Homo sapiens: one gene and its partners. The protein of the gene in region 1 purifies or fractionates together with the protein of each later gene. This does not show direct contact. Each region holds a gene or a part of one and is shown in the gene's direction. Other genes may lie near its edges. The genes, in order: TPD52, ZNF174, TSPAN3, SEC13, PAIP1, CALU and CLIC4.

Region 1 (4,734 bases):
ATGGGATTGCTGCCATTGAATGGTAGCTCTGTATTAAGTTCTTTGAGAAGTATCCAAATTGTGTTCCACAGTGGCTGAACTTTAGGACTGTTATGAATAATGCCGCTGTAAGCAATTGTGTACAGCTTTTTGTATGGATGTGTGTTTTCTTTTTATTGTTGCTTGTTTGTTTTTTGAGAAGAGTCTTGCTCTGTTGCCCAGGCTGGAGTGTAGTAGCATGATCTCAGCTCACTGCAACCTCTGCCTCCTAGGTTGAAGTGATTCTCCTGCCTCAGCCTCCTGAGTAGCTGGGATTATAGGCACACCACCACCATGCCTGGCTAATTTTTGTGTTTTAGTAGTATGGGGTTTCACCATGTTAGCCAGGCTGGTCTCAAACCCCTGACCTCAAGTGATCTGTCCACCTTGGCCTCCCAAAGTGCTGGGATTACAGCCGTGAGCCATTGCACCCAGCCTGGATGTGTTTTCAATTCTCTTTGTTATATATACCTAGGAGTGGAGTTGCTGGGTCATATGGTAGCTCTATGTTTAACTTTTTGAGGAGCTGTCAAACTGCTTTGCTGCCCAACTTCATTTTACATTCTCACCAGCTGTGTCTGAGGGTTCCAATTTCTCCACATCCTTGCCAACACTTATTAATCTCTGTTTTTTTTAATTGTAACCATCCTAATGGGTATGAAGTGGTATCTCCTTGTGGTTTTGATTTGCATTTCTCAAATTACTAATGAATGGTGTTAAGCATCTTTTCATGTGCTTATTGGTCATTTGTATATCTTGGGAGAAATGTCTATTTAAGTCCTTTGCCCATTTTCTAATTGGATTGTCTTTTTATTGAGTTGTAAGTTTCTTTATATGTTCTAGATACTAGACTCTTATTAGGTATGTAATTTGCCAATATTTTCCCCATTCTGTTGGTTGTCTTTTACTTTCATGACAGTGTCGTTTGAAGCACAACCTGTAGGCATCCTCCCTTTCCCAACCTCTAACACCCACAATTTTACTCTCTACTTAGATGGGTTCAGAGTTTTTTCTTGGCGTCCACATGTGAGTAAGAACATGCAGTATTTATCTTTCTGTGCCTGATTTATTCTGCTTAACGTATTGTTCTCTAGGCTCATCCATGTTGCTGCAAATTACAGGATTTCATTCTTTTTTATGGCAGAATTGTATTCCATTGTGTATACCACATTTTCTTTATCCATTCACCTGTTGATGGACACTTGGGTATTGTAAATAGTGCTGCAATAAACGTGGGGGTGTAGGTACCCTTTGATACACTGATTTCCTTTCCTTTGGATAAGTAACCCAGTAGTGGGATTGCTGGATTATGTGGTATTTCTATTTTAAGTTTTTCTGAGAAACCTCCATACTGTTTTTCATAGTGGCTGTACTAATTTATATTCCCAGCAACAGTGTATAAGAGTTTCATCTTCTCTGGATCCTTGCCAGCATCTGTTATTTTTTGGTTTTTTGATAACAGGCATAATAACAGGTGTGAGGTGATACCTCATTTTGATTTTGATTTGCATTTCCCTGATGATTAGTGATGTTGAGCATTTTTAATATATTTGTTGGCCATTTATATGTCTCTTCTGAGAAATGTCTATTTAGATCCTTTGCCCACTTTTTAAATGGGATTGCTTGTTTGTTTTGTTGTTGAATTGAGTTCCTTGTATATTTTGGATATTAGTCCCTTGTCAGATGAATAGTTTGCAAATGTTCTCTCCCATTCTACAGGTTATCTCTTCACTCTGTTGATGATTTCCTTGAATTTAGTCCCATTTGTCTATTTTTGTTTTTGTTGCCTGTGTTTCTGAGGTCTTAGCCATAAAATCTTTGTCTAGACCAATGCCCTGAAGTGTTTCTCCTATGTTTTCTTCTAGTAGTTTTATGGTTTTGGGTCCTTAGTCCATTTTGAGTTGATCTTTGTATATAGTGATAGACACATCAGAGATTCTTAATCATGCTCTTTATGCTTTTAAAGTCACTCTGTTTTACATGTATATATTGAATTAAGGAATCGCAGCCATGATGTGCTGGGCTAGGTGTGTTAGCAGCACAAGCTAACCAACAAAGGTGGGGAATATACTGTGTTGTGCATTGTTCAGAAAGATTTAGAGTGGTTTGTCTTTGCAGCTTTCATTAGAGGAAGTGAGTACCTCAGAGAAGTGCTAAGGGGTGGGAAACTTACCATTTAAGTCTATTCTTAGAAGTGTCTGAAGCTTTGGAGCCTGAAGTAGAGACAGAGGAAGTGGGAAGCTTAAGAGAGTGTACATGAGAATTCAGCCAGTAAACTGAGACGTGCATTCAGAAAACCTAGATAGGAATTCTGGTTCCTACATTATTTGTTTGATGACTTTGGGCAAATCATTTAATTTACTTAATTTTGAACCTTATTCTTTCCTCTTTTTTTGTCCTTTTCTTCTCGTATTCCACTTCGTCAATGTACATCTTAAAATGTGACTTACAAAACTGGGTCCAGTACTTGTGACTCTGACAAGCACAGGGGATTATTTATTTGTTCTGAGGGACCTCTGTTCCAGTTAATCTTATCTGAGAGTGGTGTTGTAGGTTCTTTTTCTTCTTTTTTTTTTTTTCTTGGCAGCTGCATCACATTTGATTTATCCTTTTCTCCGTTGCACTAATTTTCTTTGTTTTGTGTTCTCTAAAGACTTAAACATCTGTGAAAACATTTGACTGAGCAATACTCTATGTTATTTTTAAAGGGCATGTTGTCTTTGAAATCATAGAAATACCGTGCAGGTTGGGGCTGAAAATATGGCTTTGCAACAAGCCAGGAGACGCATTTCTCTGAGGGTCTTGAATGTTAATGGATATACTTTAGGGACCTAGATTTTCAATTTCCTGGGACCTAAAGTCTCTTCCACATGGTGTCTATTTCTCTCTGAAATAGGCAGTCCACCCTTTTCCCTGTTTCTGAAATAGAGAGTCTACCATTTTCCCTGTTTTCCTGGATTAGCCTTTTGTTCTACTCTGTCCATTTTTTCCTTTTCTTCATAGCTTCTGCTTACAGTTTTAGATTCCTCAAGCATATTTAAGCTTTCCATACCTCTCATAATCTCACTGTAGCCTACCTATACCTCAAGGCTTCTTCAAGTTTTTTCAGCTTCTACTTGCAATGTCATCTCACTTCTCAAACTAGATTCCTGAGTGAGAGAGACGAATAGTTGAGCACCTCTTTTCACACTGGGCTCATCCACTGGCTCTTGATGGGTGGCTGTCCATGGGTCAGGGCCCACCTCTAACCACCTAGTCAAGTCTGGGCAGTCAGCATCAAGGGGTTCACATGAAACCCTTGAGAGCAGGGATCTCCTGAGGAGGCGGTTTGATTTATTATGGCCATGACTTTGCCAGACACAGGGACTGAGTATATGTATCCAGTATATATACTCATATCAAATATGCAAGGAGATTGGATTTGGGTTTGGCTTGGTTGTGTGTGTTTTGGTAGGGGATGGAGATTATTTTGATTTAGTATACAAATACAAGTTTTGTAGGCATTCAGATAGAAATGTCTAGGCTGGGAAGGCAGACCCACAGGTCGGGAGAGTGGATGTTAGAGTGCTTTATTAAGTATTATCTGTGTAGAAATTTGAGTCCTAAACCTACATGAGATAGCTGAGTAAGGAAGTATAGGGAGAGAGGAGAAGGCCAAAAACAGCTTAAGATGGGATTATAAAGAGCTCCCATGGAGGAGGAAAGAGAACTCTACAGGAGAGATCAGCAAGTAACCAGTTTACTCAACAACATTATACATTGTTTTTAGAGAGAAAGATAAATGATTCAAAAAAATGTTTAATGACTGGAATTTTGGATGTAGTTCTGTGGTAATAATCTTAACTTACTGAATGACTTTTGCTATATTCTTACCCCAAACCCCTTCCTCATAGGTAGAAGAAGAAATCCAGACTCTGTCTCAAGTGTTAGCAGCAAAAGAGAAGCATCTAGCAGAGATCAAGCGGAAACTTGGAATCAATTCTCTACAGGAACTAAAACAGAACATTGCCAAAGGGTGGCAAGACGTGACAGCAACATCTGCGTATGTTTCCTTGATCATACACTTTCCTTGGGAGTGTAAAGGACACTGTTGTGCCTTTTGTCTGGAGAGGGGAAGAAAAAGAGGATAAGGATGCTTCAGCAGCTTTTCTTTGGACGACACGGCACCCTTTTTTTCTGATTTTCAAGTGTGCCTGCCTTTTTTTGTAACTTCAATTTTTCCAGACCACTTATTCTAAGGAATAGAAAGAAAGCTAGCCAGTTGGAGAAATAAAATTCAAATCCCATAAGTGTTATGTATTGACTTGCCACAAATATGTACATTTTGTCCTTTAGTACTCAGAATAACCCAGTAAGAATGGGTGGCAAGATAACCCTGGATAAGGAAACAGGCTCAGACAAATTAAGTTTTCATGTCACAAACCTCTCAAAATGTGGAGTGGGAATTCAAACTCAGGTCTGGAGCCAGTCTTTATTATTATTATTAATGTATTTTTTTAACCTTGTTGTGTAGGTATCAAAAGATTCTCAGGTCGTAGTCTCAGATATATGCTCTTGGCAGAGGTCAATCCCTTAGGCTTTTTGTCTTTTTGACCACACATGCTATGATATAGCATTATCATAATGCAGTTTTGTTTCCCGGCACAAGGAGGAGCAAGCTTCTAGCAGCAGAAACCGAACTGCTCTGTCTTCTGTATTGAGAGCCATCTGCAGAGC
Region 2 (4,059 bases), on another chromosome or scaffold:
AAGCCACTCGGCTGATTTGTAGCATCCTCATTCCTGTCATTCTTCACGTTCTCCCCTTTACTTCCTTTGAGGGTTTCAGTGGTTTCTATGAAAGTTGACCTCTAGATGGTTATCAGCAATTCCCAAGGTAAACGGGTCATTATACAACAGTGAGAGATCAAGCTTCCCTCAGTCCTGATGGATGGAATTAATGGATGGGGCTTGTTCCTAGGTGGCCGTTTGTATGCAGGGGCAAAAGGTGCTCTTGGAGAAAACTGGATCTCAGCTTGGAGAACAGGAACTGCCAGACTTTCAACCGCAGACTCCTAGGAGAGATCTCAGGGAGAGCTCTCCAGCAGAGCCTTCCCAGGCAGGAGCTTATGACCGGCTGAGCCCCCATCATTGGGAGAAATCCCCACTCCTCCAAGAACCAACCCCCAAATTGGCTGGGACAGGTAAACACTCTGCCTTTTCTCTCCCTCTCATCAGCCCTTTATCTCCATCAATGTATCTCATGGTTCTGCAAAGGCATAGACCACATGTGTGTGTTTTTTTAAATGTTATATATAATAGTAGATGATTATTCACTAAACAAATTTCACTAATTAGGATGGTGGTGATACTACAAGTAAGTATGTTTTTATCGTTTTCTGTTAATGAAAATTTAAGAATCCAGTGCATGACAGGGTTGTACCTACTTTTCTGTCCGTTTCAGAACTTCTTATAGAAAAGACAGATCCAAATATGGCCACAGATGAACTTCCATGCAAGCTATGGCTGAGTTTCATTGCTTAAAATGCTCCTCTGTTTAGAGGGGCCTGGTAGAAATAAAAACCCACCCTATATCTTATATCTTTGTCCTCCTCTGTGATGTTGCTTGTACTTTAGATCCTCAAATCTATTTCCCTTTCTCTGGTGTGATACTTGTGTAACTGCTGGCCTTGTTCTACACAGTCCTGTGATCTCTAAGCCTGAATGACAGTGACATTTTGGCCAAGCCTGGTGATGTGAATACAAGATACAGTGAGCACGTTAGGGAGGAGGGTTACAAGACGACAAAAATCCTCAGTTTCTTAATATTTGCTACATCCAATGAGGTACTTCGTGTTTTAGTCTGTTCAGGCTGCTAATATAAAATGCTAGAGACTAGGTAGTTTATAAACAACAGGAGTTTATTTCTCACAGTTCTAGAGGCTAGGAAGTCTGAGTTCAAGGTGCCAGCATGGTTGGGTTCCAGTGAGGCCCCTCTTCCAGGTCACAGACTGCCTACTTCTCAGTCCTCATGTGGCAGAAGGGGAAGACAGGCTCCCGTGGGGCTCTTTCATGAAGGCACTAATCCCATTCCAGTGAGGGCAGCACCCTCATGACCTAATCACCTCCCAAAGGCCCCATGTCCTAACACTATTACCTTGGGAGTTAGAATTTCATATGAATTTGGAGGAACATAAACATTTAGCCCCTGGCAACCACAGTCTACTTTTTGTCTCTAGAATTGCTTATTCTGAACATTTTATACAAATGGAATCACACAGGCCGGGCACAGTGGCTCACGCCTGTAATCCCAGCACTTTGGGAGGCCAAGGCAGGCGGATCACTTAGGCTCAGGAGTTCGAGACCAGCCTGGGCAACATGGCGAAATCCTGTCTCTACAAAAAATGCAAAAATTAGCGGGGCATGGTGCTGCACACCTGTAATCCCAGCTGCTTGGGGGAGCTGAGGCAGGAGGATCACTTCAACCTGGGAGGTCGAGGCTGCAGTGAACTGAGATCGTGCCACTGCACTCTAGCCTATGTGACAAAGTAAGACCCTGTCTCAAAAATAAATAAATAAATAAATTGAATCACACAATATGTGGTCTTTTGTGTGTGGCTTCTTTCACTGAGCATGTTTTCAAGTTTTATCCATGCTGTAGCATCAATCAGTGCTTCATTCCTTTTCTGTGGCTGAATAATAGGCATTGTACGGATATATTACATGTTGGTTTTCTGTTCATGTTGGTTCATCTGTTCATAGATTTTTGGGTTGTTTCTACTTTTTGGTTATTATGAAGAATGCTGCTATAAATGTGTGTTTTTGTGTAGACATGTTTTCATTTCTCTTGAGTATATACCTAGGAGTGGAATTACCATATGCTAGGTCATGTGGTAATTCCATGTTTAACTTATGAGGAACTACCAGACTGTTTTCCAAAGCAGCTACACCATTTTACATCCCCACCAATACTGTGTGAGGATTCCGATTTCTCCACATTCTTGCTAGCACTTGTTATTGTCTTATACCCATCCTATTCGGTGAGAAATTTTGATTTGAGGTTTTGATTTACATTTCCCTAGTGACTAATGGTGTTGAACATCTTTTCATGTGCTTATTATCCAGTTACATATCTTGTGTGGAAAAATATCTGTTCAGATCCTTTGGTCATTTTTAAATTAGGTTATTTGTCTTTATTTTTTATAAGAGTCCTTTATGTATTCTAGATACTAGACCCTTATGTGTAATTTGCAAATCTTTTCTCTCATTTTGTGGGTTGTCTCACTTTCTTGACAGTGTCCTTTGACGCACACGTTTTTCATTTTGCTGCAGTCTAATTTATCTATTTTTTTCTTTCTTTATGCTTTGGTGTCATATGTAAAATAGCACTGCCTAATCCAAGGGCACAAATATGTACAGCTATGGTTTCTTCAAGGAGACATAGATTTAGCTCTTACTTTCAGCTATTTGGTCCATTTTAAGTTTATTTTTTCCCCATACATAAACAAGTCAATTTTTATATAGGTTTTGAGGTAGGGGTCTGTCAATCTGATCAGGGGTCTGTCTTAATCTGATCAGGCTCTTACAACAAATTGCCTTAGACTAGGTAATTTATAAACAACAGAAATTTGTTGCTCATAGTTCCTGGATACTGGGAAGTTCAAGATCAAGGTGCCAGCAGATTTGGTGTCTGGCGAGGGCCCATTCCTCATAAATGGTGCCTGCTATGAGTCCCCACATGGTAGTCTCTTGGGTTTCTTTTATAAGGACACTAATCCCATTTATGAGGACCCCACCCTCATAACCTAATCACCTCCCAGATGCCCCACCTCCCAAGACCACTGCACTGGGGACTGTCAATATATGTGTGTCAGGGGACAGGGGGGATAAACATTCAGACCATAGCAGGGTCCAACTTCATTCTCTTGTATGTGGAAATCCAGTAGTCCTAGAATCCTTTATGAAAAAGACTATTCTTTTCCCATTGAATTGTCTTGTCAAAAAGCAATTGACCCTGATTGTATAGGCTGATTATTTACATTTGAATTTAAATGAATTAAAATTAAAAAAAAATTTAAAATTAAGTTCCTTAGTCACAGTAGTCACATTTCAAGTACCCAGTAGCCACATAGTCACATGTGGCTAGTGGCTGCCATATTGAACAACGTGCATGTGCCTGTGCATGCACGTGTGCACACACACATTTTCCACATCACAAGGGATCCTTCTCCAGATCCTGTGATTTCCCATAGGCCGTTCCAGCTCATCTCCATCCAGACTGTCAATCCTTCTGTAATTAGGATACATGGCTAAGCCCTGATTCCAGTTTCTGAACTCATATACTGTCAAATTTGTAATGAAAGAAAACATCACAGTCTCTGAACTTACCATCTTTTGAAGAGAAGGTGGTTGTCAATTAGTGTTTACTAAGTGAGGGGTATTTGTTGAAATAGCTCAGGCATTGGACTACAGCAGTAAAATTTGCAATGTTGAGATTTCACCTCTCTTCCTTCTTCATTAGATACCCAATTCTGATGGGTTTGCTTTTCCCTGTTCTTCATTTCCTAAACCTTTCCCTAAAGGGAGAAAGGAAGAAGGAGGATGGAGAACTTGGTTCCTAAATTTAATATAAATCACAGTCACCCCAGGAGCCTGCTAACTGTGCAGATTATCAGGCCCAACCCCCCGAGATTCTGACCCAGCAGCTCTGGGGGAAGGGTGAAGAGCCTGCTTGTTTAACAAGTGCTCCAGATGAGTCTAATGCAAGTTGCCAGCGGAGGGCCACCCTTTGAGAAACCTCTCAGAGTATTTCATAACTCTTGCTGAAGT
Region 3 (3,586 bases), on another chromosome or scaffold:
TATTTCTGTGTAAATTAGCCATGTTTCTTCACATACATGGCTATCCTGATGTGACCAATATTTTTCCCCAACCTTCACCCTTGAAAAGTTTATTTCATCACCTAGCCAGATGAGAAACATCTTGAACTTTTTTTTATCATCTGATTTCCCCTTCCCTGACCCCAGTCTGTACTCTCCCAAAGTACTTAGCCAAAGGGGTGATGACGCAAGAGAGAGGTATGTGTCACAGGAAAGGTGGGAGTCCAGATTGACTCCAGGGGAGGTGGGAGGTCTATATATACCTTTAGAAAACAAGATAAGAAAAGGCAACAGAAAAACTGTCAAAAAAAAGTTGTTATGGACAGTCTGATACACACAAAGGTAGAAAGAATAGTGTAATAGATGTTTGCACCCCGACCTTGCCTCAGTAATATCAACTTTTCGTCAGTCTTATTGCCCCTACTTACTTTTTGCTTCATTATCTTAAAGCAAATCTCAAAATTTTTAAGACCAAATATTTTAAATACTTTGTCATTGGAAATAATATTTAACATGGAACCAGATATTTAACATGTAAGACATGAAGATTTTCCTTAGTTAGAAACTACCGCTTATAGGCAATGTACTTTTCTTTTCTTTTTTTTTTTTTTTTTTTTTTTTTTTTTTTTTTTTTTTTTTTGAGATGGCGAAATTTCACTCTTGTTGCCCAGGCTGGAGTGCAGTGGCGCGATCTTGGCTCACTGCAACCTCCACCTCCCGGGTTCAAGTGATTCTCCTGCCTCAGCCTTTGTATTTTTAGTAGAGACGGGGTTTCACCATGTTGGTCAGGCTGGTCTTGAACTCTTGACCTCAGGTGACTCGCCCATCTCGGCCTCCCAAAGTGCTGGGATTACAGGCGTGAGCCACTGCACCCGGCCTGGCAATGTACTTTTCATATGGAGATTCTGGAGCCACTAGCCATGTCTGGCTGTTTACATTAAAATTTAAAATGCAGTTTTCTAGTCACACTAGCCACAATTTAAGTGCTCAGTAGAGCTTCATGTGGCTAGTGGCTGCTATATTGGATCATGCAGACTTTCCATTATAGAAAGTTGTATCGGACATCACTGGTCTAGAGTAGCTTATTTTAAAGCTCTGTAGTACATGGAACTTCAGGTATTTGGTTTTTGTGAGAAATAATACTTATTCTCTTCTCCTTTAGCTGCATTGTTGTGGAATTCACAACTACTCAGACTGGGAAAATACAGATTGGTTCAAAGAAACCAAAAACCAGAGTGTCCCTCTTAGCTGCTGCAGAGAGACTGCCAGCAATTGTAATGGCAGCCTGGCCCACCCTTCCGACCTCTATGCTGAGGTGAGTCTCTTGGCCACGACTTGAGTCTAGCTTGATTAACCTGTTTTTCACCATGTCTTATCACCATCTGGGACTTCTTTTCTGCCACCTTGCTTGTCTTTAATGTCATATATTGTTTTACTGTAAATTATTATAAAATGCATGTCTTTGTTTTAATTACATGTCTGTAAATTATACCAATCATGGAATCTTTTTTCCACTCTTTCAGTTTCTGTCATTTTCCTTTCTGTAAGTGGGTAGTGGCCTGTGAATCTGCAGCTTTAACTTTTAAAGAACACTTCTAACGAGGATGACTGTGTTTGTTACAGGGGTGTGAGGCTCTAGTAGTGAAGAAGCTACAAGAAATCATGATGCATGTGATCTGGGCCGCACTGGCATTTGCAGCTATTCAGGTAAGCACAGCTTGCCAAGGAGTTCTATCGGAGTGAGTTGGTTCTCTGTTGTCAGCCCTGAATGGTTTTAATCCCCATCACAGTGAATCTTTGTGTATGTAGGTAATGTGGAAGTGACTGAGGTACTGGCCTCCAGTTTCCCATGTTTTCCATTTCTTGTCTATACACCTAGACCCGGAATGGTCTAAAGAAACCAGAAATCTGGATGGGGAGGGACCACGTGTTGAGGGAACTCCTCGTCTTACTGTCTTTCTTGATTAGTGAGTGACCTGTTCAAAACATAAACGAACTGTTGTCTTAGTGTATTCTTGGAAGATATTTTATTAGAATGTCACAAAATTTTTAAAAATTGTACTTCTTTCTTTCAGTTTGGGAATACAAAGCTTTATTCAGTTTTTTTGTATGCTAGTTCTCCCTCTAGTTCTTGTTTTTCTGTCCTCACAGGTTTTATATATTCATATACGTAAATCAAGAACTGGTACTACAGCACTGGTCTCTTGCACTAAACACAACAACTTTTAAAAATAGAGACAAGGTCTCACTCTGTCACCCAGGCTTGAGTGCAATGACATGATAATAGCTCACTGTAACTTTGAACTCCTGGGCTCAAGCGATCCTCCTGCTTCAGCCTCTCCAGTAGCTGGGACTACAAGCACGGGCCACCACACCAGACTAATTTTTAATTTTTTTTTTTTTTTTCCAGAAATGGGGTCTCATTATGTTGCCCAGGCTGGTCTCAAACTCCTGGCCTCAAGCAATCCTCTGTCTTGGCCTCCTAAAGTGTTGGGATTTACAGGCGTGAGCCACCGCACCCAGCTTATGCTTTCTTTTCTTTTCTTTTCTTTTTTTTTTTTTTACGACAGAGTTTTGCTTTTGTTGCCCAGGCTAGAGTGCAATGGTGTGATCTCAGCTCACTGCAACCTCTGCCTCCCAGGTTCCAGTGATTCTTCTGCCTCAGCTTCCCAAGTAGCTGGGATTACAGGTTCCCGCTACCATGCCCAGCTAATTTTTGTATTTTTAGTAGAGACAGGTTTTTACCATGTTGGCCAGGTTGGTCTTGAACTCCTGACCTCAGGTGATCCACCTGCCTCGGCCTCCCAAAGTACTGGGATTATAGACGTGAGCCATCGCGCCCAGCCTCAGCTTATGCTTTCTTAAGCCTGAAACCTATTTCAAGAGCTAAAAGAGCCAGGTGTGATGGGTTACACCTGTAATCCCAGCACTTTGGGAGACCGAGGAGTAGGATCCCATGATGTTAGGAGTTTGAGACCAGCCTGGGCAATAAGACTCCATTTCTACCAAAAAAAAAATTTTTTTTAAAAAAGAAAAATGTAGATAACTTTTATTTGTTAAATAAAACCAATGTAATTGCTAGTTTAAATGTAAGTTGCTTGGATTGCTTGCTCTTTGTATATTTGAACAGAAGCTAGTGTATTTAATGGGAAAGGCCTTTTAAAATGGCAAAAGGATGATTGTTTACTTTGCTGATATTCAGACAGCCCTGAAATGATTCATTAAAAAGCCTACCTCTTTATTTGCCATGGTCTTTGCCCTTCTAAGCATTTACTCTGTAGCTCTGCATAGCAGTAATCTGATGATCAGCAGGGATTTATTTCATATTTTGATTATTTATGCAAACACATTCATTTAGCTAAAAATAATGAAATATGAGGAAGGTCTCTTTTCCCAAATAGAATTCTGAACTGTGCATTCTTAATGATTTTATGTTCAGTAATAAAGCCACATGTACTAGCATGCAGCAAAAAAGTTTTGGAACTGTATGGTACTTGTGGTCATGAAATATGCAACATGTATATAGAAGACTGATAAAAATAATCACTTTAGCTATGTCCCTCATCTA
Region 4 (4,916 bases), on another chromosome or scaffold:
TTGTTGCACAAGTTCAACGATGTGGTGTGGCATGTGAGCTGGTCCATCACAGCCAACATCCTGGCTGTCTCTGGTGGAGACAATAAGGTACATACCCATTCCCCGTGGCATGGTGGACACAGCCTGTTGGTCTTCACCCCGCCCACTAGAGAGGGCACTTGACATTCCCATCTGACTGCAGGCTGGGCAGGAGCCTTAGCCAGGACTGCGTTTTGAGTGTGCCTCTTAGTTACATCATTAATGTCACAGCCCCTGAGGTAGTATTAACACGTCCCCCTTTCACAGATGAGGAAAGAAGCTGACAGAGGCGATTTGACTTGCATGGGGGTCCCAAAACTATGAGGTGGCAGAGCCAGTCAGGCCCATCACCCTACTAAGCATTTGGTCACCTCATGGTGATGTTCAGTTAGCTGTGCCAAAAAGGCAAGTGTATAAGAACCCATAAACAGAAGAAGATTGGGGATATTTTTTGTCCATAACACTGAAAAGGCTTTTTAAAAACCTTTAGAGTTTATGAATACTTGTTATGCTGGTAAGAGGCAGGTACACAGTGGGTGCACTGGAAGAGTTTGCATTTTGCAGCTGAAAGAGTTCTGGAGACCAGCTGCTCAGGGACCCAAATGTACTTCACACAACTGGACTGTGCAGTTAAAAGTGGCCAAGGTCATTTTATGTGACGTGTATTTTACAATTAGAAGGAAAAAAGCTACCCGCAGAAAGGAAGCAGTAACAAGCCATAGCCATCTGCCCAGCTGAATTCCCCTATAAGACAGAGGATCTCTAACGCCGCAGGGTCAGTTCCACGTGGAGTGGCTGTGCTGCGTTTTCAGGCACATCTGCTCTGCGCCTGAAGTGCGAGTTGGTCTGGATCCTGCCAGCCCTTGCTGCTTCTCTCCCTTGCCTATGTTGGTCTTTTACTGTTTCCCAGTGGCCACTTTGGCTCCATGTCTTACCTTTCATTTGTGTGGCTCACGGCACAACCAACACAGGCAAGGCAGAGAAGCAGCTGGTCTCCAGAACTCTTTTCAGCTGCAAAATTGAAACTCTGTACCCATTAAATAACTCCCTTCCCCATTGCCCCTCCCCAGCCCTGGCAGCCACCCTTCTCCTTTCTGTCTATGTGAATGTGACTGCTCTAGCGACCTATCTAAGTGGAATCATACAGTATTTGTCCTTTTGCGACTATGTCACTAGCAGTATGCCCTTAAGGTTCCTCCATGCTGTACGTAGCATGTGTCAGAATTCCTTCCTTTGTAAAGCTAAGTAGTGTTGCATTGTATAGACAGCCCACACCCTGTTTCTACACTTATTCCTCCACCAAAGGGCACCTGGGCTGCTGCCACCTCTTAGCTATTGCGAATAGTGTGGCTGTGAACATGGGTGTGCAGATCTTGAGAGCCTCTGCAGGCGGCTTTTCTGGCCGAGGGTCCCTTTCATCTACAGTGGTCCCAGAAAGATCTAGCAGGCCCCCTCTCAAAGCCATATTTCTAGTGAGTGCCAGAGTCAGGACCAGAACCCAGGTTGATGGCACTCAGGGCAGACCAAGGGACCCAGATTGCCTCAAGCAGGCCCCCAGTGACTTTTTTACAAGGCTGTAAGCAAGTGCCTGGCTGTGCACGCAGTGTTGTGGGGCCCGTCACTGTGCATTTAGGCTTCTTGCTCTTCTTTACAAGCCTGTTTCCTTTCGCTGTCTCCATAGCACCCTTACCTAAAGGACTTAGTATGTTTTCAATCCCAGAGCATTCTGCAGTGTGTTGAGTGAATAGTTTGTCCCTAAAGCAAGAGTTCTTAAAATCAAAATCGTTATTTTCATTTTTAATCAAACTAATATATGTACATAGGTTTAGATTGTTTTTGTTTTTTGTTTTGTTTTTTGAGATCGAGTCTCGCTCTGTCGTCCAGGCTGGAGTGCAGTGGCGCAGTCTCGGCTCACTGCAACCTCCGCCTCCTGGGTTCAAGCGATTCTCCTGCCTCAGCCTCCCCAGTAGCTGGGAGATTACAGGTGGCTGCTAGTTTTTTTGTGTGTATTTTTAGTAGAGATGAGATGGGGTTTCACCAGTTCAGGCTGGTCGCGAACTCCTGGCCTCAGGTGATCCACCCATCTCAGCCTCCCAAAGTGCTGAGATTACAGGCGTGAGCCACCATGCCCGACCTAGACTGATTTTTTTTAATGCAGCCTCCTAATTTTCTCTCCAGGGGCAAACCTTTTCAGCTCTTAGCTATTTCTTATACAGTTTACTTCAGTGTAGAAACAACATATTGAACTGTTACCTTCCTCTACCACAGTAGTTTTCAAACTGCAGTGTTGTTAAACCTGTTAAAACAGATTGCCAGCCCCACCCCCAGAGCTTCCTAATCAGTTGTTCCAGGCCCCAAGAATCTGCAGTTGTAGCAAGCTCCCAGGTGACCGATGCTCTGCTCTGGTCTGGGGACCACACTTTGCGAACCCTGCTCCCCGCCACCCCATATCCTCTCGCTGTAGCTCTGTCACAGTTTGCTGAAAACAGTATCCTGTGTTGACATCATCATCCACAGCTGCTGTTATTGTTACTCCTTTTTTTCTGTGAGTTTTTATTCCTGGACTCTCATTTTGGTGAGATTTCAGTGGAGGAGGGACATGCTCTGTTCACCCACAAGCCTCTGGGCAGTGGTTCTTGATGAGGATGAGGCTCATATTTAGGGGACAGCAGAGGGAAGGGCACAGACCCGTGATAATCTGCTTGTGCACTGACTCGCAGGTGACCCTGTGGAAGGAGTCAGTTGATGGGCAGTGGGTGTGCATCAGTGATGTCAACAAGGGCCAGGGCTCCGTATCAGCATCAGTGACAGAGGGCCAGCAGAACGAGCAGTGACAAGACAGGTGGGGCCTGGCTCCCCACCCGCCAGCTCCAGGACTGCCCCTTCCTGGGCCAACTAACCAGACAACTGGGAAGAGCCCCCAACTCCAACAGGATTATTTTCCCAGGAGGAGTTACAGATGCAGCCACAGATTGATCATCTGCCTTAACGTGATCGGAGATGCTTTGTAATCTACTGTCCAGCTGAAAGCACTCATGTTACGAGGAAGAAACTACAAGTGATGTTCAAATCTATTTTGGGTCATTTTTATGTACCTTTGGGTTCAGGCATTATTTGGGGGGTTTTGTTTCCAAAGGAACTAAATAAAGTCATATTGCTTATAATTCCTGCTGCGTTATCCTAACCACCCCACCCCACCAGCTCAGTTTGACTCTTGTCGGTCCACGCACTAGAACAAACTATTCACAAAGGCCACGGCTGTGATGGCCTGGCTTAACCCCACGCACAAAGGTGGCTTGTCACTGCATGAGCATCTCTGATTCAGTTTATACTGAAAGCACCATACAGAGCACTGGACTCAGCCTTTGGTGACAAGGACTGTAGCCCTGGGTCTGCTACTTACCCTCTCGGTACACATCCTGTTCTGCAGAATGGGACTAATACAGTCTGCCCTACAGGATGGCTGCAAGATTCAAACACGCTAGTGCATCTGGTGACCTACAAAATGCCACGCAGGTGCAACGTGGTATTAACCAAACACCAATAGTTAAGATGCTGGCCCAGAAAGTGGGCACGATTCATTTAGTTTATTGACCCTGTCAGGAAAAGGAGGGCCCCATGATGGGAGACCTAACTGACCCTGAACCAGGTATCACCTTTCAGCGGAGGCCCTGTGACCCTGACAATCGCCATAGCCATCAGTGAGCCTGCGGTGAGCCAGACCCTACACTGGATCTTTCACACATTCGCTAATTTAAGCAACACGAGAACCCCGTGTGGGTGTACCCAGTTCACTGATGAGGAAGCGCTCAGAAGGTAGAAGCCCTGCCCAGGACTGTGCAAACGTAAAGCCAGCGTCAGGGCCTGGCCCATCTCAACAGTTACTCCCCACTGTAGAATCAGGGTGGGAGCTGGGGGGCTCTCCTCAGCTGTAATACAAGGATGTTTCTCACACCAAACCTTTGTATGAATAGATTCAGATAAAAGGTCAGCCCACTTGCCTCAGGCCCCCTAGTCTGCCTACTTCTTGTCCTTCCCTCCTTTTTCAGCAGCAAAATCCCCTTTAAAAAAAAAAAAAAATCTTTGATCATACTATGTAACATAGAAGAAAGTGAAACTGCTTTGGTTAAAGGTGAGGACAGAGAGGCCATGGCCTGGCCCAGTCAGCCTCCAGTCAGTCCACAAAGCCCAAGCCTTCTGAGACCAACATGAAAACAGCTGCTTCCTTCCTTCCCTTACTCAGAAAAGCAAAGCCCAGGAAGGCACCTTCACGTGCACTACTGAGTGTCGAGTTCTACAGTGAATCCTTGAACCATATCCACGTCTGCCTCCCTGATACGCTCTGTGCTCCTCAAGCCTGGGCCTGGGCTTCCTATGGTGCCAGCTGCTGTCGCCAAGAAAATACCGAGAAGGAACTAGTCCCGTGTCACTCTGGGTTGGTGGTAGGTTAATGGGTCCCTGACTGTGTGCTCTATTTTAACTCCCACCACCAAGGATTGGTTAAGATAATTATGAAGTTGGCACCATAATAGTTGTTTATACTTAGAGTGGCAACACATTAACCATTCCTGGGTAAGAGGAGACCCCAAAATTTATTACCACAAAATAGCCTAGTCAAATAGAAATACTATCTGTAAAACTTGCCGGGCAGTTGTCAAGCCCAAATGAGATAAAAGTAAGGGAAATTTAAAAGGCATAGAGCTCTGGTTAGGGCCAGATGGCGCTAGCAGCCATATGTTTTTAATCCTTTTGCAAAAACAAAGCAACTGGGACAGCAAAAGAAACCCACAGACCCTAGAACATGGAGCAGGCCAAAGCCTTCATAGACACAATACCTCTGAGAGATCAGCAGGGTGAAGAAAAGGGAGTTTTTATGGTGCTATAAGCCAGAGACCCCA
Region 5 (4,734 bases), on another chromosome or scaffold:
GTTACCCACCATATGTGCTTCTGTAGTACTGTAATCCTGTCAATAATAATGTAGAGAAATACTAGTGAGCTAACAAGTAAAAAGCAAAGCATAATTCTGCTACCTCTTTAAAAAATATATACATACTTTGAAAAAGATGGAACGGAAGTTACCTTCACAGCAGTTATCTCTTGTTTTTAGTAGTAGTGCAGGTGACTTTGTTCTTTATACTTTTTCTGTTTTAACCTTTCCAAAATAAACATACATTGCTTTTATAATTGAAAATCTTTAGCTTAAAAATTTGACTTTTCACCTAGTCAATTATGTAGGTATTTGTTTGCATGTACATAATCATATCCTAACGTACAGTCTGTCATAGCATTTTATGAAAAAAAAAGTTATTTCATCAACTCTTACCGACAAAGTTGTAACAGAAAAGCAGCCAACAGGTGTTTTTAAATAACTGATTTGGCATTAATTAACTGATCTCTTCCATTATTAACCAGAATGTACTATCTATAAATATCCCAACTTTTTTCTGATGAGGAATTTAATATGTACAAGATGATAACAAATATCTTACCACATTTGACTTAAACAGAAGATGTTGCTCAGTTAATATACCTCGTAAACATTGGAATTGGCCACGTAAGCACAGTAAGCTGTGCTGGGGTTTCGTGGTTGGCAAACTGACCCAGAGTCAATTACTGAACAAGAGGTAATTTATTTTTTCTTTGTTAAAAATTGTTTACAAAGTCAACCTAAACTGGCTGCGTGGAAACCATTCAGTACCCATAGCTTTTCCCTTTGTCTTGAAAAGGAAAACTGTCAAAACCAGTTTTGTGAAGCAAGTTACTTTCCCAGAGTTTTCTCACCTTATCAATAAAGATTACAAATACTTAATAACAAAATGATAAACTTTTACAGTCCATTTAAAAAATCTATGTTAGTAACAATATCTGACACTGTAGTTCACTTATGAAGGCAGTGACAGGATTATTGTGCCTAGTTTAGTTACCTTGTAGGAACTATGACTGACAATAAGCTCCAAGAAGAGGATTTCTTCTTTTTCTCCTCTGTGTGAAGCAAATGGGTCAAGTCAGGGGCAAAGAGAGCAAGGAAAAATCAGTTATTTGAAGCTGTCAGTCTCATTGGAAATAGAAAACAAGTCCGGTGCTTTCTATATTGTGGTTTTAATGGGGGAATTTTTTCCTCACATTAGTACTTCTCTGATACGTATAATGGAAATTACAAGAATAATGGACTTAAAAACAATTCATTTTATTTTCAGTTGGAGGTTGTGTGTGTGTGTGTGTGTGTGTGTGTGTGTGTGTATTTAAAGATCCTTTTCAAAGTTGTAGTATTAAAAAAAAAATTACAGAGACAATTTGGGTAAAATCAGTGCTTTCTTAGTAAAAAACCTATAAGACAAGGTGAGGCTCTCTCTCCCCTCTTTGGGCTGCCAGTATGCTGTGAATCAGATTACACCTATGTTGCTTAAACATATTAAATTTGATAAAAATCGTTGAAAATAAAACTATCAGTTTTTTCAAACTGGGAGACTTAGTATGAAAAGATGGTGTATATTCTAGCCTCTTCAATAGTCAGGAACAGTTTCTTTATTGTAGAAAGAGCATTGGGACATTGTCCTTGCCTCTTGCTGTGGACAACCAAACTGACAAATGGTTATTTTGTTTGACTATTTAAAAAGCAAAGCAATGTGAGATTATAAAAGATATGTCTTTAATTAGATGTCGGACTGAATATGAAGTTAAAGATCAAGCTGCAAAAGGGGATGAAGTTACTCGAAAACGATTTCATGCATTTGTACTCTTTCTGGGAGAACTTTATCTTAACCTGGAGGTGAGAAGTTTTTCTTTTGTTAAGTACTAACAAGGCCTGAGAACATAAGTTGATCTCAATGAGGAATTTGTGTTCACATTGTACTTTTACAACATTAAGAGTGAAATGAAAGAGAGAGGAAAGAAAACATGTTTCGGCACCTGCTAGTGTCTGTGGTTTACTGGACCGTCTGTCCATAACATTTACTCATGGACAGAATGTTAGGAAATAATTACTGAGGTAAAAATCTGCGTACTTTTAGGAAGCTGTGGTTTACATGCAAATTTAAGTTCTTGAGATATCAACAGTGATACCTTTTTGAGTTCTTACATCTTATATATTAATACATTTAGTATGTTGACTTTCAGATGGTGGCTCAAAGCAGTTTACTCTGCAGAACTCTGAGTGAAAAGAGAGACTAGAGTCTCTCTAGGCTTTTCACTCTAATTCACCCAAATAGTTTTTTAAAAATATTTTTTTAATTGACAAAAATTATATCTTTATGGTACACAACACTTTGATATATGCATACATCGTAGAATGGCTAAATCAAGCTATTTAACATATGCATTACTTGACATACTTTTTTGTGTTAAGAACACTTAAAATTTTTAGCAGTTTTCATGTATACAATATATTGTTAACTATAGTCATCATGGTGTACAAGAGATCTCTTGAACTTATTCCCCCTAAATGAAATTCTGTGTCCTTTGACCAACATCTCCCCAATACCCCAACCCCTAAGAATAGTTCTTTTTTGTCCTATTTTATATATTAATCTTCCACATAAAAATGCATTTGTACAAAGTCTACAGCTAAACGTATTTATAAATTTGGGTGGTATACTTAAGTATATGCTTGTTAGTAGGCAATAGAAGTGCTGGATTCAGCACGGCATTATTACTGTGTAATAGATTTGCTTGATTTTTTTTTTTTTTTTTTTTTTTTGGGTGGGGACAGTCTCGCTCTGTCACCCAGGCTGGAGTGCAGTGACGTGATCTCGGCTCACTACAACCTCCGCCTCCCGGGTTCAAGCGATTCTCCTGCTTCAGCCTTCTGAGCAGCTGGGATTACAGGCACGTACCACTATGCCTGGCTAATGTTTATATTTTTAGCAGAGATGGGGTTTCACCATGTTGGCCACGCTGGTCTCAAACTCCTGACCTCAGGTGCTACCCGCCTCAGCCTCCCAGAGTGCTGGGATTACAGGCATGAGCCACCATGCCCAGCCTCTGCTTGATTTTTTAAATTAGTGAATATCAGATATAAGCTTATACCTTCTTACACCCTGATTTGAGAACTTAAGATCGTAAACGCCATAATATCAGAAACATCATAAGACAATGTGAATCTATCAAATGTGCATCTCAGTCATTGTATCTAAAAGGTCTATGTCCAGTCCAGAGCCTAACTTACTATGCCTTTTTACCACAGGTAGACTTAGTTTTTTGAAAAATCTTATGCCATGTTCTTTTTCAGTCTAATTTTTGTTTAAGCCAAAATATGGACAGCAATCTAAAATAAATACTGTTGAGCATTTTCTATATGGAGATAATGATGCTAGGTCAATGGGGGATGTAAAGATAAGGCTTAGTTCCTGCACCTAAAATTCTTCTACACAGTGATATAAGATACATATACCACTCTGATGCAAAATACCATATTTTAAAATATTTTAAAAGCAGAATAAAATGCTGTGTGTTCAAAAAAAAGTGGTAGTTGAACAAACTAAAGAAAGCTTTATGAAGTAGTAACATCAAAGTGGGCTTAAATTATGCTGACTCTGGTATTAAATTTTACCCATAGCTTACCAGTTTTATTAGAGGTCTTAGTTACATATAAAGTAATTCTAACAAATTCTGTGAAGATATCAGAGTGTGTTCCTGTGACTTTTGTGATTTAGCTAAAATGCTTATTTTGCCAACACCTTGTTAGTTCATTTATGTATCTGTATTATATTTTGGCATCATTCCTTTTGTTCTTTTTTTTGGTCCCGAAAGATCAAGGGAACAAATGGACAGGTTACAAGAGCAGATATTCTTCAGGTTGGTCTTCGAGAATTGCTGAATGCCCTGTTTTCTAATCCTATGGATGACAATTTAATTTGTGCAGTAAAATTGTTAAAGGTAGGTTTTTTTTTTTAATTTAACTAATTTACGTATTTACTTATGATTTAGAGGAAGGTTAGTCTATATAGTATACAGATGAATTCAAGATTTATCACTTTAAGGTAAATATTGACATTTTACTTTTTTCTCGAATATTTTGGAAAAGCGAGATATACTTATTGTTTAATATATGAAGCAAGTTCAGAAGTGAAAAATGGAAGTCCTTTACGCCATTTCCATTTGCAAATTCTGTCTTCTTCCCTTCTTATCTCTGTATATGTGCTCTTATTAAATAAGATCTTACTCTGTTCTGGCTTTTTGTTTTTGTTTTTGCCACCTAATGAAACATCTTAGATTTTTCCATGGCACAGAGATTTACCTCTTTTATTGAATAACTTCCTAGTATTCTGTCATATGCATATGCATTGTTTATCCATTCCGTAACATCTATCAATGTTTACTAATGAATATTTGGATTATCTTCAGTTTAGCCATGGCAGCATTGCTTGTAATCTTTCCTCTTGTCATATATATGTGCAGATACTTTTGTAGGTTAAATTCTTAAACACGGATTTGGTGGGTGGACGAGCATATGTATTTTACGACAAGTAATGGCTAATTTGCCTTCCAAATGCTGAACCAGAGTATAGCCCCATCAGCAGAATGAGTACATCTCTTCCTACATCCTTATAGTGATGGATATAATCAATCTTGGTTTTTGTTTTGTCAGATGATTTTAAGCATTTCTTCATGTTTATTAGCCATTTGTTTATTATTTCCTATAAATTACCTGTTTAAATCCTTA
Region 6 (4,734 bases), on another chromosome or scaffold:
TTTGAGACAGTCTTGCTCTGTCACCCAGGCTGGAGTGCAGTGGCGTGATCTCCACTCACTACAATCTCTGCCTCCCAGGTTCAGGCGATTCTTGTGCCTCAGCCTCCTGAGTAGTTGGGATTACAGGCATGCACCACCACACCTGGCTAATTTTTGTATTTTTAATAGAGGCGGGGTTTCACCATGTTGGCCAGGGTGATCTTGAACTCCTGGCCTCAAGTGATCTGACCACCTTAGCCTCCCAAAGTGCTGGGATTACAAGTGTGAGCCACTGCACCTGCCCCCAAATTAGAATAGTATAATGAATCCCCATGTACCTATGCCTAACCTCAACAACAATCAACTTACAGCCAGTTTTTTCTCAGCCACATCCACTTCCTTGCTTCCTTCTTACTTTGAAGTAAATCCCAATCATTATGTCATTTCATCTGTAAACATTGAGGTATATATGTCTAAAATATATATGTGTTTCTAAAAACATTTTTTTAAAGATAATGTCAACCCAAGAAAATTAATAATACCTTCAAATCATCAAATAGACTGAGTCTTTTAAAAATAGAAATTCGGCCGAGCATGGTGGCTCATGCCTGTAATCCCAACACTTTGGGAGGCTGAGGTGGGCGGATCACAAGGTCAGGAGTTAGACACCAGCCTGACCAACCTGGTGAAACCCCGTCTCTACTAAAAATATAAAAATTAGCCAGGTGTGGTGGCATGTGCCTGTGTAATCCCAGCTACTCAGGAGGCTGAGGCAGGAGAATCGCTTGAACCCAGGAGGCGGAGGTTGCAGTGAGCCGAGATCGCGCCACTGCACTCCAGCCTGGGCGACAGAGCAAGACTCTGTCTCAAAAAAATAAAGTAAAATAAATAAAAATAGAAATTCAAATAGTTTATCATGGTCACCTAGCTTTAAAATGCGCTTACGTTGTAGTGTATTGTGTATTCTAGCTTCCTTTAAAACCATATCTTTTAAGCATGTGTCTATTTCCTAATTCAGAACTTTCCAATCTGTATCCTGTGAGTAAGTCTTCTTGGCTTTCAGGACAGCTAGGGCAGGAACCTGATCCAGTGGACCGTACAAACTACATTTTCTGAATGTGCTGTAGCATGGGAAAAAATTGGCAAGTCCTGCTGTGAGGAATTTCTCTTGTGAGTTTAAGACAGAGGAGTACTTCTACCCTTAACCCTCAAGGTCAGGAAAATGGCAGCACTGACTAAATAATTACCTTTGCTTAGAACTTGCAGGAACTATTTAGATTTCTCTTTAGGTGTTTTCCCATACCTTACATGCAATGCAGGTACACTTAACTTAGATGTCGTATAACTCAAGCATTTTCAGACTTGTTCACTTAAATAACTCCTGAAAGAATTTGACCAACAGCATTCCCTTATGTGTTTTAAAGTTGGCATCTGAAATATTTAATTAAGAAATTTAAACAGTTGTAAAGAATAGTCTCTGTTGGGCCGGATGCCGTAGCTCATTCCTGTAATCCCAGAACTTTGGGAGGCTGAGGCAGGTGAATCACTTGAGCCCAGGAGTTTGAGAACAACCTGGACAACATGGCGCAACCCTGTCTCTACAAAAAATACAAAAAAAAAGAAAAAATTAGCCAGGCATGGTGGCGTGTGCCTGTAGTCCCAGCAACTCAGGAGGATCACTTGAGCCTGAGGGTTTGAGGTTGCAGTGCACCGTTATTGTACCACTGCACTCCAGCCTGGGCAACAGAGCAAGACCCTGTCTCAGAAGAAAAAAGAATAATCTCTGTTGGTGATAAGCATTGACATTTTGAAAGTAATTCGGAAAGAAATCTATAAAATTTAAATACAAGATACCATAGCAACTTCTTACCTGCCGTCTTTCATATGAATAATTTGGACACGACAACTTTAAAAAGATAATCAAGAAATTTAAATTCAGTCTGGGTATTAGATGATACCAAGGAATTGATTTTGTAAAATATGAAAGTGGCATTGTGGGTATATAAGAAAATATCCGTAATTTTTTACATTTCATAATAGTTAAAAAGGAAATGTTTCTTTGGTACTTTTTTTTTTTTAGTTATGGCGTTTGGTTAGCAACAATGTGACCATCACTTAATTGCCCTTTTTTTTGTTTAAATTTATAGGGATTTGGGGATATTTATACTACTTATCAGTCACCACATGATATTGTCTTAAAAAAATAAATGAATAAACTGTTAACCAACTTGGACATTTTACACGCATCCTGTTTCTTCTTCTTCTTCTTTTTTAAAAAGACAAGAGTCTCATTCTGTTGCCCATGTTGGTGTGCAGTGGCACAATCACAGCAGCCTCGATCTCCAAGGTGGGGAGATCAAGTGATCCTCTCACCTCAGCTGGGACCACAGAAGAGCACCACCACACCCAGCTGATTTTTTTTATTATTATTCTTATAGACATGGGTCTCCCTACATTGCCCAGGCTGGTCTGGAAATCCTGGGCTCAAGAGCTCTACCTGCCTTGGCCTCCCAAAGTGCTGGGATTACAGACATCAGCCACCCGACCTCCTGTTTCTTTTTTTTCTTTTTCTTTTTGAGACAGGGTCTCACTCTGTCACCTAGGCTGGAGTGCAGTGGCATGATCATGGTTCATTGCAGCCTCGATCTGCTAGGCTCAAGCCATCCTCCTGCCTCAGCCTCCCGAGTAGCTGGGACTGTAGGTGCATGCTGCCATGCCTGGCTAATTTTTGTATTTCTTGTAGGGATTTTGCCATGTTGTCCAGGCTGATCTCAAACTCACAAGTCAGCCTTCTATTTGTTAGATTCATTTGCAGTTTACTTCCTCAACAGAATTATATTCTGACATATTTTATCTTGAAGCCTTAGTCACTTTGACATTCTTATTTGCAAGAACATTGTGTATGTAAATTGAAATATGGAAAATGGTGTTCTGTGATATGGCTCTTAAGTGTTTTTAGAGTCTTCTGTGTTAAGTTACTATTACAATTATTAATACACAATTGAACAAAATAACATTTATTACAGACGTTTTATGTTTATATATTTTTAAATGCATTTCTTTGACACATTTTTATTCAAATAGTTTCATATCCATGGATGACAATTACTTATCCCTAGAGTGAAATGGGATTCAGCACCAATTCCTAATTTTTATTTTTTAGAGGAAGTACTAACAGACCTTGTTTACATTAGTAAATAAGTTGATGGAAGATTTGTCATAGCAATATTGCTTAGTTCTTGGAACTCCTTTTGAGTTACATGCCAGAAATCATGTAATCTATCATCAAAAATTATGGGTTTTGTTTGTTTCAAGGTGGAGTCTCTCTCTCTCACCCAGGCTGTAGTACACAGGCACGGTCTCGGCTCATTGCAACCTCTGCCTCTGGGGTTCAAGCGATTCTCCTGCCTCAGCCTCCCCAGTAGCTGGAGATTACAGGTGTGGGCCAGCACGCCCGGCTAATTTTATTTTTTATTTTTAGTAGAGACGGGGTTTCACCATGTTGGCCATGCTGGTCTCAAACTCCTGACCTCAAGTGATCCACCCGCCTCAGCCTCCCAAAGTGCTGGGATTACAGGCATGAGCCACTGCACCCAGCCCAAAAATTATGTTTAATGATCCCTTAGCTAAAACTCAATTAGGCCATTTTTCAAGGTTTTTTTTTTTAAAGCAAAGAATTTAAAACCTTTTGACATGCAAACGAATTTATTCATTTTTTTTCAGGCATTTGCATTCTCAAGACTGACACTAGTATTTCTTTTTCTTTTTTTTTTTTTTTTTTTTTGAGACGGAGTCTTGCTCTGTCGCCCAGGCTAGAGTGCAGTGATATGATCTCGGCTCACTGCAACCTCTGCCTCCTGGGTTCAAGTGATTCTTTTGCCTCAGCCTCTCGAGTAGCTGGGATTACAGGCACGCACCACCATGCTCAGCTAATTTTTGTATTTTTAGTAGAGATGGGGTTTTGCCATTTTGGCCAGGCTGGTCTCAAATTCCTGACCTCAGGTGATCTGGTCTCAAACTCCGACCTCAGGTGATCTGCCTGCCTAGGCCTCCCAAAGTGCTGGAATTACAGGTGTGAGCCACCACGCCCATCCAGACACTAGTATTTCTAATTGTTTCTTTTTCATTATCTTGGAGCTTTTTACACTCTAGTTTCAAAATGGTTGAAAATATGCCTTTCTTTTATAAAGTGGGACAAGGGCAGTTGTGAAAGGGGGGAGATGGGAAAAAAGCCTTGATGGCCAGAGGTACATTCTTATGAAGATCAATTTTTGGAAAAATCTATATGTGGAACTGAGTATCTGGAATTTGATTCTCTCTTGACTGACCTTTCTCAGTGTACTCCTTGACAGTGTTCCTGTTTCCCCAGGGGCGTGCTTGTCCCAACTGAAGGCCACTGGTATAATGGACTCTTTGTAGTAATTGGCTACACCTTTCTAAAACAAGTGGTCCCGTTTAATTAGCTACCTTAGGGTGAAATGAAATGTAGGGAACGAGTCTAAGTCTTTCTTGATGGTAGCTCTCTCCTCTTATTTCTGCATTTATTAAGGTATAAGAACTCTTTGCTCTCATGTGACTTAAAATCAGCAGCTGGAAATATTCTTGTTGCAAGATAAGTGATTAAGCCTCAGGAAAATACCTTGCTTTCTAAGGTCTGTCTGGCCTAAAATACCCTTGTAGCTGCTGTTGGGTTCCAAACAAATGGATGAGGAAAAAGGGTTAGGCCAGATTAGCATGAGGCAGTTTTGGGGAAAA
Region 7 (4,734 bases), on another chromosome or scaffold:
ACTAGGACTCTCTTCTATGTTTCTTATAATTAATGCTACACAGATATAAGAATTGGCTTCCAGCTAGGCCAATCAGCCATACTAAGAAAGGTGGGGATTTGTCTAAGCTGTAGAATATGTGGTAGAAACAGATTTGGGATGTGTCTGATAGGTCAGGAAAGACTGGTTATTTGTGGACTGTAGGTCTCAAACTGAGAGAGAAGTTTAAAGAGGAGAAGGGGTGGGGAAAGACACATTCCAACTGAACCCAGTAAGAATGTCTTAGCAGGAGTGTGGCACAGGACTGCAATGAGATTTGATTTCAGTTCATTTTAAAGGTAACTTTCTAAAGCTATAATCCAAGGACATTGACTTTTCCGACTGTGTCCCTAGGATTCAGAGTTTTTATTTACTTACTTCTTTGAGGTGTTCCAGATCTCTAGGTCCTGGATGTACTGTAATGATAGTTACCTAAATTGCAGATATGCAGCTTTGCATCATACTGTAATATTGGCATAGATTCAAAGCATTATTTGTTTCTTTTAGGCTTTTCCAGTTTCATTATCCTGAAAATTGACATGTTTTGTTTCTACTGACCAAAACCTTTCTTACTGGTTAACTTGACTGTTGCCCTCCATGTCCAGATATATTTTCCAGGAATGGGATTATTGAGATGGAGGGTTCTAAAATAATTATAGGCATACCCTGAAGGGTATGGTTCCAGACCATTGCGAGTTAGGTTCCAGACCACAGTGATAAAATGAATATTGGAATAAAATGAGTCACGTGAAATTTTTCGTTTCCCAGTGCATGTAAAAGTTATATTTACAGTAGTATACTGTAGTGTTTTAAGTGTGCAATAATAGCATTATGTCTGAAAATATTGCATGTACCTTAATTTAAAAATACTTCATTGCTAGGCTGGGTGTGGTGGCTCATGCCTGTAATCCCAGCACTTTGGGAGGCTGAGGCGGATGGATCACCTGAGGTTGGGAGTTCGAGACCAGTCTGACCAACATGAAGAAACCCCGTCTCTACTAAAAAATACAAAAAAAATTAGCTGGGCGTGGTGGCAGGCACCTGTAATCCCAGCTACTCGGGAGGCTGAGGCAGGAGAATTGCTTGAACCAGGGAGGCAGAGGTTGTAGTGAGCCAAGATCGTGCCACTGCACTCCAGCCTGGGTGACAAAAGCAAAACTCCGTCTCAAAAAAAAATCATTGCTAAAAAATGCTAATGGTTATCTGAGCCTTCAGCGAGTCAATCTTTTTGCCGATGGAGGGTCTTGCCTTGATGTAGCTGGCTACTGACCGATCAGAATGGTGATTGCTGGTTGGGGTGGCTGTGGCAATTTCTTGAAGTAAGATAACAATGAATTTTTCTACATTGATGGACTCTTCCTTTCATGAAAGATTTCTCTGTAACATGCAATAGTGTTTGATAGCATTTAAAAATTTTAAAGTAAATATTCTTTGCCTGAGGCTAATCTCAAGAGGTCCTGAGAACATGCACCCCTGTTTGATAGTGTTTTTACCCACAGTAGAACCTTTTTCAAAATTAGAATCCATCTTCTGAAACCCTCCTGCTGTTTTAACAACTAAGTCGATGTAATATTCTAAATTCCTTGTTGTCATTTCAACAATGTTCTTAGCATCTTCACTAGGTATACATTCTATCTCAAGAAACCATTTTCTTTGCTCATCATAAGAAGCAACTCCTCATCCATTCAAATTTTATTATGAAGGTAGAACAATTTGATTACATTTTCAGGCTCCAGTTCTAATTCTAGTTCTCTTGCTATTTTCAACACATATGTAGTTCCTCCCTCCACTGATGTCTTGAACCTGTGAATGTCGTCCATGAGGGTTAGAATCCACTTCCTCCAAACTCCTGTTAATGTTGCTATTTTGACCTCCTCCCATGAATCATGAATGTTCGTGTTTTTTTTTTTTTTTTTTTTTTGGACGGAGTTTTCGTTCTTATCGCCCAGGCTGGAGTGCAGTGATGCGATCTCGGCTCACTGCAACCTCCACCTCCCAGGTTCAAGCAATTCTCCTGCTTCAGCCTCCTGAGTAGCTGGGATTACAGGTGCCTGCCGCCATGACCAGCTAATTTTTTTGTATTTTTTAGTAGAGTTGGGGTTTTGCCATTTTGGCCAGGCTGGTCTTGAACTCCTGACCTCAGATGATCCGCCCGTCTCGGCCTCCCAAAGTGCTGGGATTACAGGTGTGGTATGAGCCACCAGACCTGGCTGAATGTTCTTAATTGCATCTAGAAAGGTAAATCTTTTCCAGGTCACTTTGCTTTGCTCAGATCCATCAGAGGAATCACTTTCTATGGCCTTATGAAATGTGTTTATTAAATAATAAGACTTGAAAGTCAAAATTTATGGACTGCAGAATGGATGTTGTGTTAGCAGGCATGAAAACAACCATGATCTCCCTGTATATCTCTATCAGAGTTCTGGGGGGACTAGTGCATTGTCAATGAGCAGTAATATTTAGAAAGGAATCTTTTTTTCCTGGGCAGTGGGTCTCAACAGTGGGCTTAAAATATTTAGTAAACCATACTGTGAACAGATGGATGTGCCATTATCCAGGCTTTATTGTTCCATTTATAGAGCATCTGTAGAGTAGCTTCAGTATAATTCTTAAGGGTTCTTCAAATTTTGGAATGGAAGATGAGCATGGGTTTCAACCTAATGTCAACAGCTGGATTAGACTCTTAACAGAGTCAGCCTGTCCTTTGAAGATTTGAAACCAGACGTTGACTTTTTCTCTGTAGCTATGAAAATCATAGATGACATCTTTCAATAGAAGGTTTTGTCTGCATTAAAAATCTGTTTAGTGTAGCCACCTTCATCAATGATCTATCTAGAAGATCAATTCTAGATAGATCATTGTTGAAGGTAGATCAGATTTTCTAGATAGATCATCAGATGAAGGTGATGAAGGAAGATCTAGATAGATCAGCTAGATCTTCTAGATAGATCAGCTAGATCTTCTAGATAGATCAGCTAGATCTTCTAGATAACTGGCTGCATGCAGCTTCTGCATAAGCATTTGCTGCTTCATGTTTTACTTTTATGTTACAAAGATGGCCTCTTTCCTTAAACCTCACGAACCAACCTCTGCTACCTTCAAACTTTCTTCTGTAGATTTGTCACCTCTCTCTGCCTTGATAGAACTGAAGTGAGTTAGGGCCTTGATCTGGATTAGGTTTTGGCTTAAGGGAATGCTGTGGCTGGTTTGATTATCTGGACCACTCAAACTTTCTCCCTATTGGCAATAAAGCTGTTTTTCTCTATCATTTGTGTGTTCACTGGAATAGCACTATTAAATTTCCTTCAAGAACTTTTCTTCTGTATATGCTGTTTGGCTGTTTGGTGGAAGAAGTCTAGCTTTCAGCCTATCTCAGCTTTTGGCCTGTCTCAGCTTTCGACATGCTTTCCTCACTAAGCAGAATCATTTCTAGCTTTTGATTTAAAGTGAGAGATATGTGACTCTTCCCTTCACCTGAACACTGAGAGGTCATTGTAGGGTCATCAACTGTGGGCTAATTTCAACATTATTTTGTCTCAGGGAGCAGGAAGGCCTGAGGAGAGGGAAAGACAGGGGAACAGCAATCACTGGAGCAGTCAGAACACATATGATATTAATCAGTTAAGTGTGCTGTCTTATATGGGTGTGGTTTGTGGTGCCCCCAAAACAATTACAAGAGTAACATCAGAGATCACTAATCACAGATCATCATAACAGATACAATAATAATGAAAAGTTTTGAAATATTGCGAAAAATACCACAGTGTGACAGAGACATGAAGTGAGCACATGCTGCTGGGAAAAATGGCGCCATCTTGCTTGACTCAGGGTGCCATAAACCTTCAATTTGTAAAAAACGTAATATCTGCAAAGCACAATGAAGCAAAGCTCAATAAAGCAAAGCACAATAAGACAAGTTATACCTGAAGTTACTCAATTTGGTTTTTTTTTGTTTGTTTTGTTTTTTTTGAGACAGAGGCTCACTCTGTCACCCAGGCTGGAGTGCAGTGGCACAATCTTGGCTCACTACAACCTCTGCCTCCTGGGTTCAAGTGATTCTTGTGCTTCAGCCTCCCAAGTAGCTGGGATTACAGGCACCTGCCACCATGCCTGGCTAATTTTTGTATTTTTAGTGGAGATGGGGTTCCACCATGTTGGCCAGGCTTGTCTCGAAATCCTGACCTCAAGGTATCCGCCCACCTCGGCCTCTCAAAGTGCTGGGATTACAGGTGTGAGCCACTGTACCTGGCCCAGTTACTCAGTATTCATCCATTCATTTATTTATTGATTTATTCATTCTGCAAAGCATTAATGGACTACAAAGCACTGTGAATATATTAGTAAATAAAACACAGTTCTTGCCCTCAACAAGTACAGTCATGTATGGGTGGAGAGGTGTTTATGGTGGTGGGACGGGGAAGTGAATGGAATCAGGAAAGGCTTTAGAGAAGAGAGAACACTTGAACTGTCTTAATTTAAAAAAAAAAAAAGAAAAAAGATGTTCAGCAGTTGAACAAAGGAGTGACAGGTATTCCAGAGCAGAAGAGTCATTTTAAATCAATAGTATAAACATATATGTTATACACATACTATACAGAAATAGTATGTAATGTATATTATTATTAATATTATATGTATATTTGGGGGAGACTTGGAGTGGCTGGAATGTGATGTGCATGGTTGGGATGGTAGGCAGGAAGGCTGATGAGCAACAAC

The links.
Region 2: the proteins of TPD52 (region 1) and ZNF174 purify together in Homo sapiens (co-immunoprecipitation; one large-scale study listed by IntAct). This does not show direct contact.
Region 3: the proteins of TPD52 (region 1) and TSPAN3 fractionate together in Homo sapiens (co-fractionation; one large-scale study listed by BioGRID). This does not show direct contact.
Region 4: the proteins of TPD52 (region 1) and SEC13 fractionate together in Homo sapiens (co-fractionation; one large-scale study listed by BioGRID). This does not show direct contact.
Region 5: the proteins of TPD52 (region 1) and PAIP1 fractionate together in Homo sapiens (co-fractionation; one large-scale study listed by BioGRID). This does not show direct contact.
Region 6: the proteins of TPD52 (region 1) and CALU fractionate together in Homo sapiens (co-fractionation; one large-scale study listed by BioGRID). This does not show direct contact.
Region 7: the proteins of TPD52 (region 1) and CLIC4 fractionate together in Homo sapiens (co-fractionation; one large-scale study listed by BioGRID). This does not show direct contact.

Annotation. Positions count from the first base shown.
Region 1 is NC_000008.11:80,052,608-80,057,341, reverse strand, and holds part of TPD52 (tumor protein D52), read left to right. Parts: intron 1-3,911; coding exon 3,912-4,060; intron 4,061-4,666; exon of another isoform or gene 4,667-4,734. Other genes in the region: TPD52-MRPS28 protein, read left to right, coding at 3,912-4,060.
Region 2 is NC_000016.10:3,404,215-3,408,273, forward strand, and holds part of ZNF174 (zinc finger protein 174), read left to right. Parts: intron 1-211; coding exon 212-434; coding exon of another isoform or gene 435-559; exon of another isoform or gene 560-694; coding exon of another isoform or gene 695-774; exon of another isoform or gene 775-1,827; intron 1,828-4,059. UniProt on the Homo sapiens protein: Transcriptional repressor.
Region 3 is NC_000015.10:77,050,524-77,054,109, reverse strand, and holds part of TSPAN3 (tetraspanin-3), read left to right. Parts: intron 1-1,180; coding exon 1,181-1,333; intron 1,334-1,641; coding exon 1,642-1,725; intron 1,726-3,586. UniProt on the Homo sapiens protein: Regulates the proliferation and migration of oligodendrocytes, a process essential for normal myelination and repair.
Region 4 is NC_000003.12:10,299,197-10,304,112, reverse strand, and holds the end of SEC13 (protein SEC13 homolog), read left to right. Parts: coding exon 1-87; intron 88-2,738; coding exon 2,739-2,852; 3' UTR 2,853-2,965; coding exon of another isoform or gene 2,966-3,007; 3' UTR 3,008-3,182; downstream 3,183-4,916. UniProt on the Homo sapiens protein: Functions as a component of the nuclear pore complex (NPC) and the COPII coat. At the endoplasmic reticulum, SEC13 is involved in the biogenesis of COPII-coated vesicles.
Region 5 is NC_000005.10:43,536,032-43,540,765, reverse strand, and holds part of PAIP1 (polyadenylate-binding protein-interacting protein 1), read left to right. Parts: intron 1-1,730; coding exon 1,731-1,842; intron 1,843-3,821; coding exon 3,822-3,947; intron 3,948-4,734. UniProt on the Homo sapiens protein: Acts as a coactivator in the regulation of translation initiation of poly(A)-containing mRNAs. Its stimulatory activity on translation is mediated via its action on PABPC1. Competes with PAIP2 for binding to PABPC1.
Region 6 is NC_000007.14:128,762,684-128,767,417, forward strand, and holds part of CALU (calumenin isoform a precursor), read left to right. Parts: intron 1-4,734. UniProt on the Homo sapiens protein: Involved in regulation of vitamin K-dependent carboxylation of multiple N-terminal glutamate residues. Seems to inhibit gamma-carboxylase GGCX. Binds 7 calcium ions with a low affinity.
Region 7 is NC_000001.11:24,814,318-24,819,051, forward strand, and holds part of CLIC4 (chloride intracellular channel protein 4), read left to right. Parts: intron 1-4,734. UniProt on the Homo sapiens protein: In the soluble state, catalyzes glutaredoxin-like thiol disulfide exchange reactions with reduced glutathione as electron donor. Can insert into membranes and form voltage-dependent multi-ion conductive channels.